Linked DNA regions of Homo sapiens: region 2 is linked to region 1. Evidence: fine-mapped expression QTL. Tissue or cell type: amygdala. Region 1 holds a variant in brackets; the other region holds the start of a gene. All regions are shown on one strand. Distances are between the middles of the regions. Region 1 has its middle 23 kb from the start of ITGAV. Region 2 holds the start of ITGAV (integrin subunit alpha V).

The links. PIP is the estimated chance that this variant, and not a neighbour inherited with it, causes the effect.
Region 2: it holds the start of ITGAV, and the variant in region 1 is fine-mapped to the expression of ITGAV in amygdala (GTEx, PIP 0.98).

What each region holds. Positions count from the first base shown.
Region 1 is chr2:186,564,063-186,569,445 of GRCh38, reverse strand. No RefSeq gene overlaps it. Among named protein-coding and RNA genes, the nearest start is that of ITGAV, 23 kb to the left of the region's middle. The variant G/A (reference allele first, on the strand shown) is at 2,573.
Region 2 is chr2:186,586,921-186,592,303 of GRCh38, reverse strand. It overlaps ITGAV (integrin subunit alpha V), which reads right to left and starts at 2,248. Exons shown (of 30, transcript NM_002210.5): 1 at 1,781-2,248. The coding sequence starts at 1,965. LOC124906105 (a long non-coding RNA gene) reads left to right here and starts at 2,408. Exons shown (of 2, transcript XR_007087465.1): 1 at 2,408-3,314. RefSeq lists an enhancer at 1,766-1,825 and a silencer at 1,956-2,185.

The sequences.
Region 1 (5,383 bases):
TATGTTATCATTGCTTATCTCCCACATATAAGCAAGAACATGTGGTGTTTGGTTTTCTGTTCCTGAATTAGTTTGCTGAGGATAATGACTTCCAGCTCCATCCATGTTCCTGCAAAGACATGATCTTGTTCTTTTTTATGGCTGCATAGTATTCCAGGTGTATATGTACTATATTTTCTTTATCCAGTCTATCATTGATGGGCATTTGGGTTGATTTCATGTCACTGCAATTGTGAATAGTGCTGCAATGAACATACACATGCATGTATCTTTGTAATAGAATGATTTCTATTCCTTTGGTTATATACCCAGTAATGGGACTGTTGAGTCAAATGGTATTTCCGGTTCTAGATCTCTGAGGAATCACCACACCATCTTCCACAATGATTGAACTAATTTACACTCCCACCAGCAGTGTGTAAGTGTTCCCATTTCTCCACAACCTTGCCAGCATCTATTATTTCTTGACTTTTAATAATCACCATTCTGACTGGCATGAGATAGTATCTCATTGTGGTTTTGATTTGCATTTCTCTAATCATCAGTGATGTTGAGCTTTGTTTCTGAAAACCCTAGAAGAAAATCTAGGAATGCCGTTCAGGACATAAGAATGGGCAAAGATTTCATGATGAAATCACCCAAAGCAATTGCAACAAAAGCAAACATTGACAAATGGGATCTAATTAAACTAAAGAGCTTCTGCACAGCAAAAGAAACTATCATCAGAATGAACAGGCAACCTACAGAGTGGGAGAAAATTTTTGTAATCTATCCATCTCACAAAGTTCTAATATCCAGAATCTACAAGGAACTTAAACAAATTTTCAAGAAAAAAACAACCCCATTAAAAAGTGGGTAAACGACATGAACAGACACTTCTCAAAAGAAGACATTCATGTAATTTTTTTTCTCACATTTACTTAAATTTTTTTTTAATTTTCAATTTTCATGAGTACATAGTAAGTGTATATACTTATGTGATATGTGAGATATTTTGATATAGGCATACAATATGTAATAATCACATCAGGATAAATGGGGCATTTATCCCCTCAATCATCTATCATTTCCTTGTATTATAATCATTCCAATTATACTCTCCTTTAGTGATTTAAAAATGTACAATAAATTATTGTGGACTTTAGTCACTCTTTTGTGCTATCAAATACTAGACCTTATTAATTCTAACAATATTTTTGTACCCATTAACCATCCCCACTACCCCCACCATACACATTATCCTTCCCAGCCTCTGGTAACCATCAATCTATCTCCATGAGTTCAAATGTTTTAATTTTTAGCTCCCACAAATCAATGGAAACATGCAAAATTTGTCTTTCTGTGCCTGGATTCGTTCACTTAACATAATGTCCTCCAGTTCTATTCATGTTGCCGCAAATGACAGGATCTTATTCTTTATTATGGCTGAATAGTACTCCATTGTGTATGTGCCTCATTTTCTTTATCTGCTTATCTATTGATGGACACTTAGGTTGCTTCCAAATCTTGGCTATTGTGAATAGTGCTTCAATAAACGTGGGAGTGCAGATATCTCTTTAATATATTTGCTTTCTTCTGTGTATATAGGTAGTAGTGAAATTGCTGGATCATATGGTATTTTATTTTTAATTTTCTGAGGAACCTCCAAACTGTTCTCCGTAGTGGCTATGTTAATTTTCACCCCTACCAACAGTGTACGAGGGTTCCTTTTTCTCCACGACCTCATCAGCATTCGTTGTTACCTGTCTTTTGGATAAAAACCACTTTAACTGGGGTGAAATGATATCTCATTGTAGTTTTGTTTTTCATTTCTCTGATGATTAAAGATATTGAGCACCTTTTTATATACCTGTTTGCCATTTGTATGTCTTCTTTTGAGAAATGTCTATTTAGATGTTTTGTCTATTTTTAACAGAATTAATAGATTTTTTTCCCTATAGAGTTGTTTAATCTCCTTATATATTCTCGTTATTAATTCCTGGAACGATGAGTAGCTTGCAAATTTTTTTTCCTATTCTGTGTGTTTTCTCTTCACTTTATTCTTTCCTTTGCCGTGCAGAAGCTTTTCAACTTGATGTGATCCCACTTGCCCAATTGTGCTTTAGTTGCCTGTATTTGGGGAGTATTACTCAAAAAATCTTTGCCCAGACCAATGTCCTGGAGACTTTCCTCAATGTTTTCTTTTAGTGGCTTTATAGTTTGAGGTCTTAGATTTAAGTCTTTAGGCCGGGCACGGTGGCTCACGCCTGTAATCCCAGCACTTTGGGAGACCAAGGCAGGTGGATCATTTGTGGTCAGGAGTTTGAGACCAGCCTGGCCAACATGGTGAAACACCATCTCTACTAAAAATACAAAAAAAATTAGCCAGGCATGGTGGTGGGCACCTGTGATTCAGCTACTCTGGAGGCTGAGGCAGGAGAATCACTTGAACCCAGAGGTGGAAGTTTCAGTGAGCCGAGATCGCGCCACTGCACTCCACCCTGGGCGACAGAGAGAGACTCCATCTCAAAAAAAAAAAAAAGATTTAAATCGTTAATCCATTTTGATTTGATTTTTTATATGGTGAGAAATA[G/A]GGGTCTAGTTTAATTCTTCTGCATAAGGATATCCAGTTTTTCCAGCACCATTTATTGAAGAGACTGTCTTTTCCCCAATGTATGTTCTTGGTACCTTTGTTGAAAATGAGTTCAGTGTAGATGAATGGACTTATTTCTGGGTTCTTTTTTTTCTCTATCCTGTTGTATTGGTCTGTATGTCTGCTACTATGTCAGTATTATGCTGTTTGGGTTGCTATGTAATATAATTTGAAGCCAGGTAATGTGATTCCTCCAGTTTTTTTCCTTTTGCTCAGGATGGCTTTGGCTATTCTGGGTCTTTTGTGGTTCCATATAAATTTTAGAATGATTTTTTCTATTTTTATGAAGACTATCATTGGTAATTTGATAGGGATTGCACTGAATCTGTAGATTGTTTTAGGTAGTATGGACATTTTCATAATATTGATTCTTCCAATTCATGAATATGGAATATCTTTCCAATTTTTATGGGTCCTCTTCACGTCCATGTTTTATGGTTTTTATTGTAGAAATCTTTAACTTCTTTGGTTAAGTTTATTCTTAGGTATTTTATTTTATTTGTAGCTATTATAAATGAGATTATTTTCTTGATTTCTTTTTCAGAATGTTTGCTGTTGGCATATAGAAATGCTACTGATTTTTGTATGTTGATTTTGTGTCCTGCAACTTTCCTAAATTTGTTTATGAATTCTAATAGTTTTTGGTGGAGTCTTTAGGTTTTTCCAAATATTAAGATCATATCATCTACAAACAAGGATAATTTGACTTCTTGCTTTCCAATTTGGATGCCCTTTATATCTTTTTCTTGTCTGATTGTTCTAGTTAGGGCTTCCAGTGTTGAATAACAATGGTGACAGTAGGCACCCTTTTCTTGTTCCAGGTTTTAGAGGAAAAGCTTTTAATTTTTTCCCCAATTAGTATAATATTAGTTGTGGGTCTGTCATATATAGCTTTTATTGTGTTGAAGTATGTTCTTCTATAACCAGCTTTTTGAGGGTTTTTATCATGAAGAGATGCTGAATTTTATCAAATGCTTTTTCAGCATCAATTGAAATGATCATGTGATTTTTGTCCTTCATTCTGTTGATTTGATGCATCGCATTGATTGATTTGTATATGTTGAACCATCCTTGGATCCCTGGAATAATTCCCATTTGGTCATGATGAACGATCTTTTTTAATGTGTTGTTGAATTCAGTTTGCTAGTAGTTTGCTGAGGATTTTTGCATTAATGTTCATAAAGATATTGGCTTGTAGGTTTCCTTTTTTGGTTGTGTGTTTGGTTTTGGTATCATAGTAACAATGGCCTCATAAGTGAATTTGGAAATATTCCCTCCTCCTCTATATTTTTAGGATAGTTTGAGTAGTATTGGTATTAGTTCTTCTTTAAATGTTTGGTAAAATTCAGCAGTGAAGCCACTGGATCCTGGACTTTTCTTTGCTAGGAGACTTTTATTACAGCTTCAATCTCATTACTTGTTACCGTTTTGTTCAGATTTTGGATTTCTTCATGGTTCAATATTGGTAGGTTGTGTGTGTCTAGAAATTTATCCATTTCTTTTAGGTTTTCCATTTCATTGGCATATAGCTGTTCATAGTAGCTTCTAACGATTCTTTGAATTTCTGCGGTATTAGTTGTAGTATCTTCTTTTTCTTCTCTGAATGTATGTATTTGGGTCTTCTCTCTCTTTTTCTCAGTCTGGATAAAGGTTTGTCAACTTTGTTTATCTTTTCAAAAAACCAACTGTTCACTTCATCGACATTTTCCATTGTTTTCTTCATTTCAATTTCATTTATTTCTGCTCTGATCTTTATTTTTTTTTTCTTCTACTTTTAGGGTTTGGTTTGCTCTTGCATTTTTCATTCTTTAAGATGCATAGTGAGGTTGTTTATTTGACATTTTTCTACTTTTTTGATGTGGGTGCTTATAGCTATAAACTTTCCTCTTAGTACTGCTTTCACTGTATCCCATAGGTTTTTGTATACTCTATTAGCATTATCATTTTTTCAAGGAAAAAAAATTTGAGACAGGATCTTGCCCATGCTGGAATGCAGTGAGTGGCAAGATCATGGTTCACTGCAGTCTCACTCTCCTGAGCTCAAGTGATCCTCCCTCCCCAGCCTCCCAAGTAGCTGGGACTACAGGAACAAACCAGCATGCCCACCTAATTTATTTTATTTTAGTAGAGGTGAGGCCTCGGTATGTTGCCCAGCCTTCAAGAAATTTTTTAATTTCCTTCTTAATTTCTTCACTGACCCACTGATCATTTGGAAGCATATTGTTTAATTTCCATGTGTTTGTATAGTTTCCCAAATTAATATTGTTATGGACTTCTAGTTTTATTTCATTGTGGTATAAAATATTTGATATAATTTCACTTTTTAAAATTTTTTAAGGCTTGTTTTGTGACTTAAAGTATGGTCTATCCTTGAGGATGATCCATATGTTCAGGAGAAAAATGTGTATTCTGCAGCCATTGGATGAAATGTTCTGTAAATATCTATTAGGTCCATTTGGTCTATAGAGCAGATTAAGTCCAATGATTCTTTGTTGATTTTCTGTCTGGATGATCTGTCCAATGTTAAAGTGAGGTGTTGAGGTCTTCAGCTATTATTGTATGGGTGTCATCTCTCTCTTAAGCTCTAATAATATTTGCTTTATATATCTGGGTGCTCCAGTGTTGGGTGCATATATATTTACAATTGTTATATCCTCTGGCTGAATCAACCCTTTTATCATTATTGTAATACCTTGTCTCTTTTTATGGTCTTTGTCTTGAAATCTATTTTGTCTTATATAAATACAGTGA
Region 2 (5,383 bases), 23 kb before region 1:
CCATGCCCGGTTAATTTTTGTATTTTTTTGTAGTGACAGGGTTTCACCATGTTGCCCAGGTTGGTCTCAAATTCCTGAGCTCAGACAATCTGCCCATCTTGGCCTCCCAAGGTGCTGGGATTACAGGTGTGAGCCACTGTGCCTGGCCTGAAGTATTTAAATGCTAATTTTTGACTGAAGACATATATTTTCAAAATCATTAGAATTTCTCTACAAATTATATCTCACATTGAACCCTTGGGAGCAACTAAAATGTTCTGTCTCATGAAGGTATACACTTGAAAGTATCTGGAAACAAAAATGTTTAAAGATAACGTTTGGTATTCACCCCTGTGGTTAAAAACAATAAATAAAAAGATAATGCTGACTAAAATGACTAAATGGAATGTGAAATTGGTAAATGTTGCCTAAATAATGATTATTTTTATCATGTTGGAAAATCTGTGCTCCAGGTCTCACAGAAAGCACTGTAACTGCTAACAACAAATAAAACTAAGCTTGCTACATAAAATAATGTCTCCACTAACAAAGTTTCCATTAACTGCATCTAATCTATGTATTGCTGCAAAGGTTGTTACCAAAATGAATGATACTCAGTAACATTCAGAAAAACACTAAGACTAAATTCTGCTGAGTGTCCTAACAGTCATAGAAAACCATTGAGACCACCCTCAAATTAGGCATGTGTGTAGTAGAAGATGGTCCTATCCACGTACTAACCGTCAAAATTTTCCTCCACTTCACCCCGAAGGGATATCTTATACAGAAAATATGGAAACAAAAATATGTTGTTACAAGGTCTAAGCGTTTAGAAGGCACCCTAAGAACAGTTTCTCTCTTGAAAACAAGATTTAAACATCATTAAAAAAACAGTCAACATTCATTAAAACAGTACTCCTAACGCTAACATGGGGGTGGGGTGGTGAGAATGATGTCAGCATTCAGTAAAGTCGGAGACAATTTCTAACACAATAATGGCAATAACTGTTATAAATCCTGACGGCCCTTGCAACGCGGAACGTTGGCAACTTGAAAACATAACTGAATTATTAAATACTGCAGTATTCAAATGACCTGCAGCGAGTGAAAACTCAGCAAACACCCTTGTTCCTTCTGAACAATGACCTAAATAGTGAATCACTATAAAAAGAACAGATGACACATTCAATTCATCTGTTCAACCTCAAATGTGCAAATGTCTGACAGTCCCAGAGATAAGACACAATGAATTCAATAGGACAGTATGGTCATTTTAAGTCATCAGAATGTCTGCAAAAGGAGTAAGGAGAAACAGAATCAGACAGAGGCGGAAAGAGTGGGGGAGGGCTTGTTTAGGGAGACTGAAAAGGACGGGCGTTAAGCCTGTAAAGCAGAAAAAGGCTACCAAGAAGCCTAACTGGTAGAGGAGAAAAAGAAGTTCGGGGATGATATTGACCAAATCCTCGACACTGGCACAGGAGGCGGGGAGTCCGGCAAGACCAGCCTTTGTTGATTTCCCACTTTCCCCGATTTTTAAGCACAGGTCTGCTTCAAAGCTCTCCCGCTGCCCCTAACCAATTTTAAGAGGTGAGAAGCGGGGTGTAACTGGGTGATGGGTACCAAAGGGAGTTCATTTCCCCAAATATTTCCTCCACCCAGGATATAAACCACTCTGAGAGGTAGGATGGGTGAGACAGACAGACGCCGGGATCTCTCGGAAATCAATCCCAATGGAGAAACGCTGGGTGGGTGCGCGCGGTGGGGGAGGGGGCCGGCTCCAGTTCCAAGTGCGGCCACTTACGAAGACGCGCTGGGCACGAAGAAATCCACGGCGAAGCCGAAGTAACTTCCCTCGGGGCCAGAGTACTCGGCAGGACTGTCCACGTCTAGGTTGAAGGCGCGGCACAGAGGTAGCAGGAGTCCCGAGAGAAGAAGCGGGAGGCCGCGGGGACCGAGGCGCAGCCGTCGCCGCGGCGGAAAAGCCATCGCCGAAGTGCGCGCGGGACGCCAAGCCGGGAGCGGTAGCCACCTCCCCCCGCCCCAGCGAGGCGCCCAGTGCCCGCGGCCCGCCGCCTGCGCGCGCCCAAACTTGCCGGCCGCTCTCTTCTCGGCTAGCCCGGGACAGCTCCGGGGCAGGCAAGAGGGCTGAGCTTCGGAGCGACCGCCAGGGACGAGGGGCGCAGAGCGCGCGGGGCGGGGACAGCAGCGCAGACGGTCCTTTGCTTCCCTCCGGCTCCGCCGCTCCACGCAGCGTCTGAGGCTGGGGACTGCCGGGGTGAGCGCCGCACCTCAGGCCTGAGAGCCGCGGCGGCACTGGGAGGAGACCTGGAAGGAGGAGGAGCCGGCCCGGGAGGCTGCTGTGGAGCTGGAGGAGGAAGTGGGGGAGGAGAGGCGCCCTTCTACAGGGGAGAGCTCAGCGTACTTCCGTGAGTGCAGTCGCCGCCTGTCCCGAGACCTGGGCGTCTGTGCAGGGGCCCCCAGCTCCTGAGCCTGGGTCAGCGGCAGCGCTCCTGGACGAAGGCCTCAGGCTGAGCACCTGAGGAGGCGTGGGGGCGGGGGCGGGGAGATACGGTCCAGCGTCCCAATCTACCCGCGTCCACGGGAGTAGCAAGGGCACCCACGTTCCCTTGTCCCGCCGGGAACTTCCGTGCGACTGTTGTTTAAAAATGAGGAAAGCTTTTTATCAGTTTCTCGTGTTTCTGCTGCTTAGCCTGGCAGGCTCTCACGAACGAAACCCTGTTAATTAATGGTCGTTAATTACACTCCATTCCACAAACACTGAACTTAATTACGGATTTCCAGAAAGCCAGCATAGCCTCTTGCAAGTGAGGTATGTAAAGCTTAACTTAGTAGTCAAAGAAAGGATTCGCAGGGCAAAGAATTGGCAGTGATCGTTTTAAATCAAGTCAGAATAATCGAAGCCTTATTCCCAGTTTGTTAGCTGCGGTTGTATGATTTAGAAACACTGATTTGTTGATTTAGGATGTTTGGATAGACATAATTTCAGAGCTGGAAGAAGGACCGCACACCGGTGAAATAAGGCCCCGCGTGCTTGTTTGCCACTGGTGTGTTTCATCAAGCCTTGACAACACTGGACTGAGAGAGAGGGCCTTGAGGACAGGAACCTTGACCTTTTTCTTAGTGTTCTTATTTCTAGCACCTTGCCAAGCAGATAGTAGTCGATCAATAAAATGTCCAATCAGTGAATGAATAGCAGACGAAATGAGCAAAGTGCCCAGAGAAGTGACTCTTCCATATTTCAAGTGTTTCATGTGCTACAGAATCTGTTGAACAAGGTGAAGTTTAAGTGCATTGTGTGGACTTACAACTTACAAGTAAGTACTGGAACAGTAATTTCTGTTTTCCCAAAGTAACTATTAAAACTCAATCATAATATACATTAATAACTATCAAATAATCCTGTGAAAGGATATGTATATAAATGAAAGTGAAATGCCTAATTCGAATTTGTAATATTTATTGGACCAGGTCCAGGTGCTCATGCTGGCAATCTCAGCACTTTGGGAGACTGAGGCAGGAGGATTGCTTGAGACCGGGAGTTCCAGGGGAACATAGGGAGACCTCATCTCTACAAAAATTTAAAAATTAGCTGGGAGTGTGGTGCATGCCTGTAGTCCCAGCTATGCCGGAGGCTAAGGCAGGTAGATAGATCGCTTAGGCTCAGGAGTTCCAGGTTATGATAAGTCATGAGCCTGCCACTGCACTCCAGCCTGAGTGACAGAACAAGACCCTGTGTTTAAAAAAAAAAAAGGCCGGGCGAGGTGGCTCATGCCTGTAGTCCTAGCACTTTGGGAGGCTGAGGCCGGCAAATTGCCTGAGCTCGGGAGTTCGAGACCAGCCTGGGCAACACAGTGAAATCCCGTCTCTACTAAAATACAAAAAATTAGCCGGGCGTGGCGGCATGCGCCTGCAGTCCCAGCTACTCAGGAGGCTGAGGCAGGAGAATTGCTTGAACCCGGAAGGCGGAGGCTGCAGTAAGCTGAGATGGTGCCACTGCACTCCAGCCTGGGCCACAGAGTGAGACTCCATCTCAAAAAAAAAATGCATTAAATATTTCCATTTTTAAATTTGACTAAAAGATATGCAGCAAAACCTTTGGCATGTTTTACAAGGCATGGTCTAGCATCTGCCTGAAAGAAATTACTGATTGAGAGAAGAAATCCTACACAAATCCTTACACATAAATGCAAATACAGCTTATTTCTCACCTTCTTTCCTAATACACCAAAGAGGCTATTGATATGTATGCATAAACCCAAAGGGTCTTTTATATCTTAAAAACATGACAACCAGTCTACCTGGAAATCCATCCAGGTAAGGAAGACAGAAGAGTTTAAACTCTGGCTAGATCCAGTAAGTCTCCCACTCCTCAACTTCTGATCGCAGGACAGGGGTCCGACAGACCAAGGTGGAGTGAAGAAATGTGAGAGGACCAGGGAAAAGAAGAAGCCCACGAAATGACAACACATGTACACCCACCAAAACTTGGGTGAACAACACACCCCCAAATAGGGCTACAACTTACTGAAAGCACTTACTGTTGAGCCATTCTTTATGAGTTTATTTTGAATGAGCAGTCTTGAAAATCAAGGAATTTGTTTTTTTTAAAAAAGCAAATAGTCCAGGCACTGTGGCTCATGCCTGTAATCCCAGCATTTTGGGAGGCCGAGGTGGGTGGATCACCTGAGGTCAGGAGTTCAAGACCAGCCTGGCCAACACAGTGAAACCCCGTCTCTACTAAAAATACAAAAATTGGCCGGGCGCAGTGGCTCACTCACACCTGTAATCCCAGCACTTTGGGAGTCCAAAGTGGGTGGATCACGATGTCAGGAGTTCAAGACCAGCCTGGCCAAGATGGTGAAAGCCTATCTCTACTAAAAATACAAAAATTAGCTGGGTGCAGTGGCAGGCACCTGTAATCCCAGCTACTTGGGAGGCTGAGGCAGGAGAATCACTTGAACCTGGGAAGCAGAGGTTTCAGTGAGCCAAGATCGTGCCACTGCACTTCAGCCTGGATGACAGAATGAGACTCCATCTCAAAAAAGAAAAAACAGTAGCCAGGCATGGTGGTGTGTGCCTGTAATCTCAGCTACTCAGGAGACTGAGGCAGGAGAATTGCTTGAACCCGGAAGGCAGAGGCTACAGTGAGCCGAGATATTGTGGTATTGTGGGCCACTGTGCTCCAGCCTGGGTGACAGAGCGAGACTGTCTAACAACAAAAAAAAGCAAACATACATTTCAATTAGGAAACTATGAAGCAGACTAACCCAGTGGCTTTAGAAACTTGGGGTTATAAATGCAGGCATCTCTTTGTGTGACCATGCTCGAGCAGCCACTCACACAGTGCCTTGCAAATTGTATTGTAGAACATGTCAATTCAGCT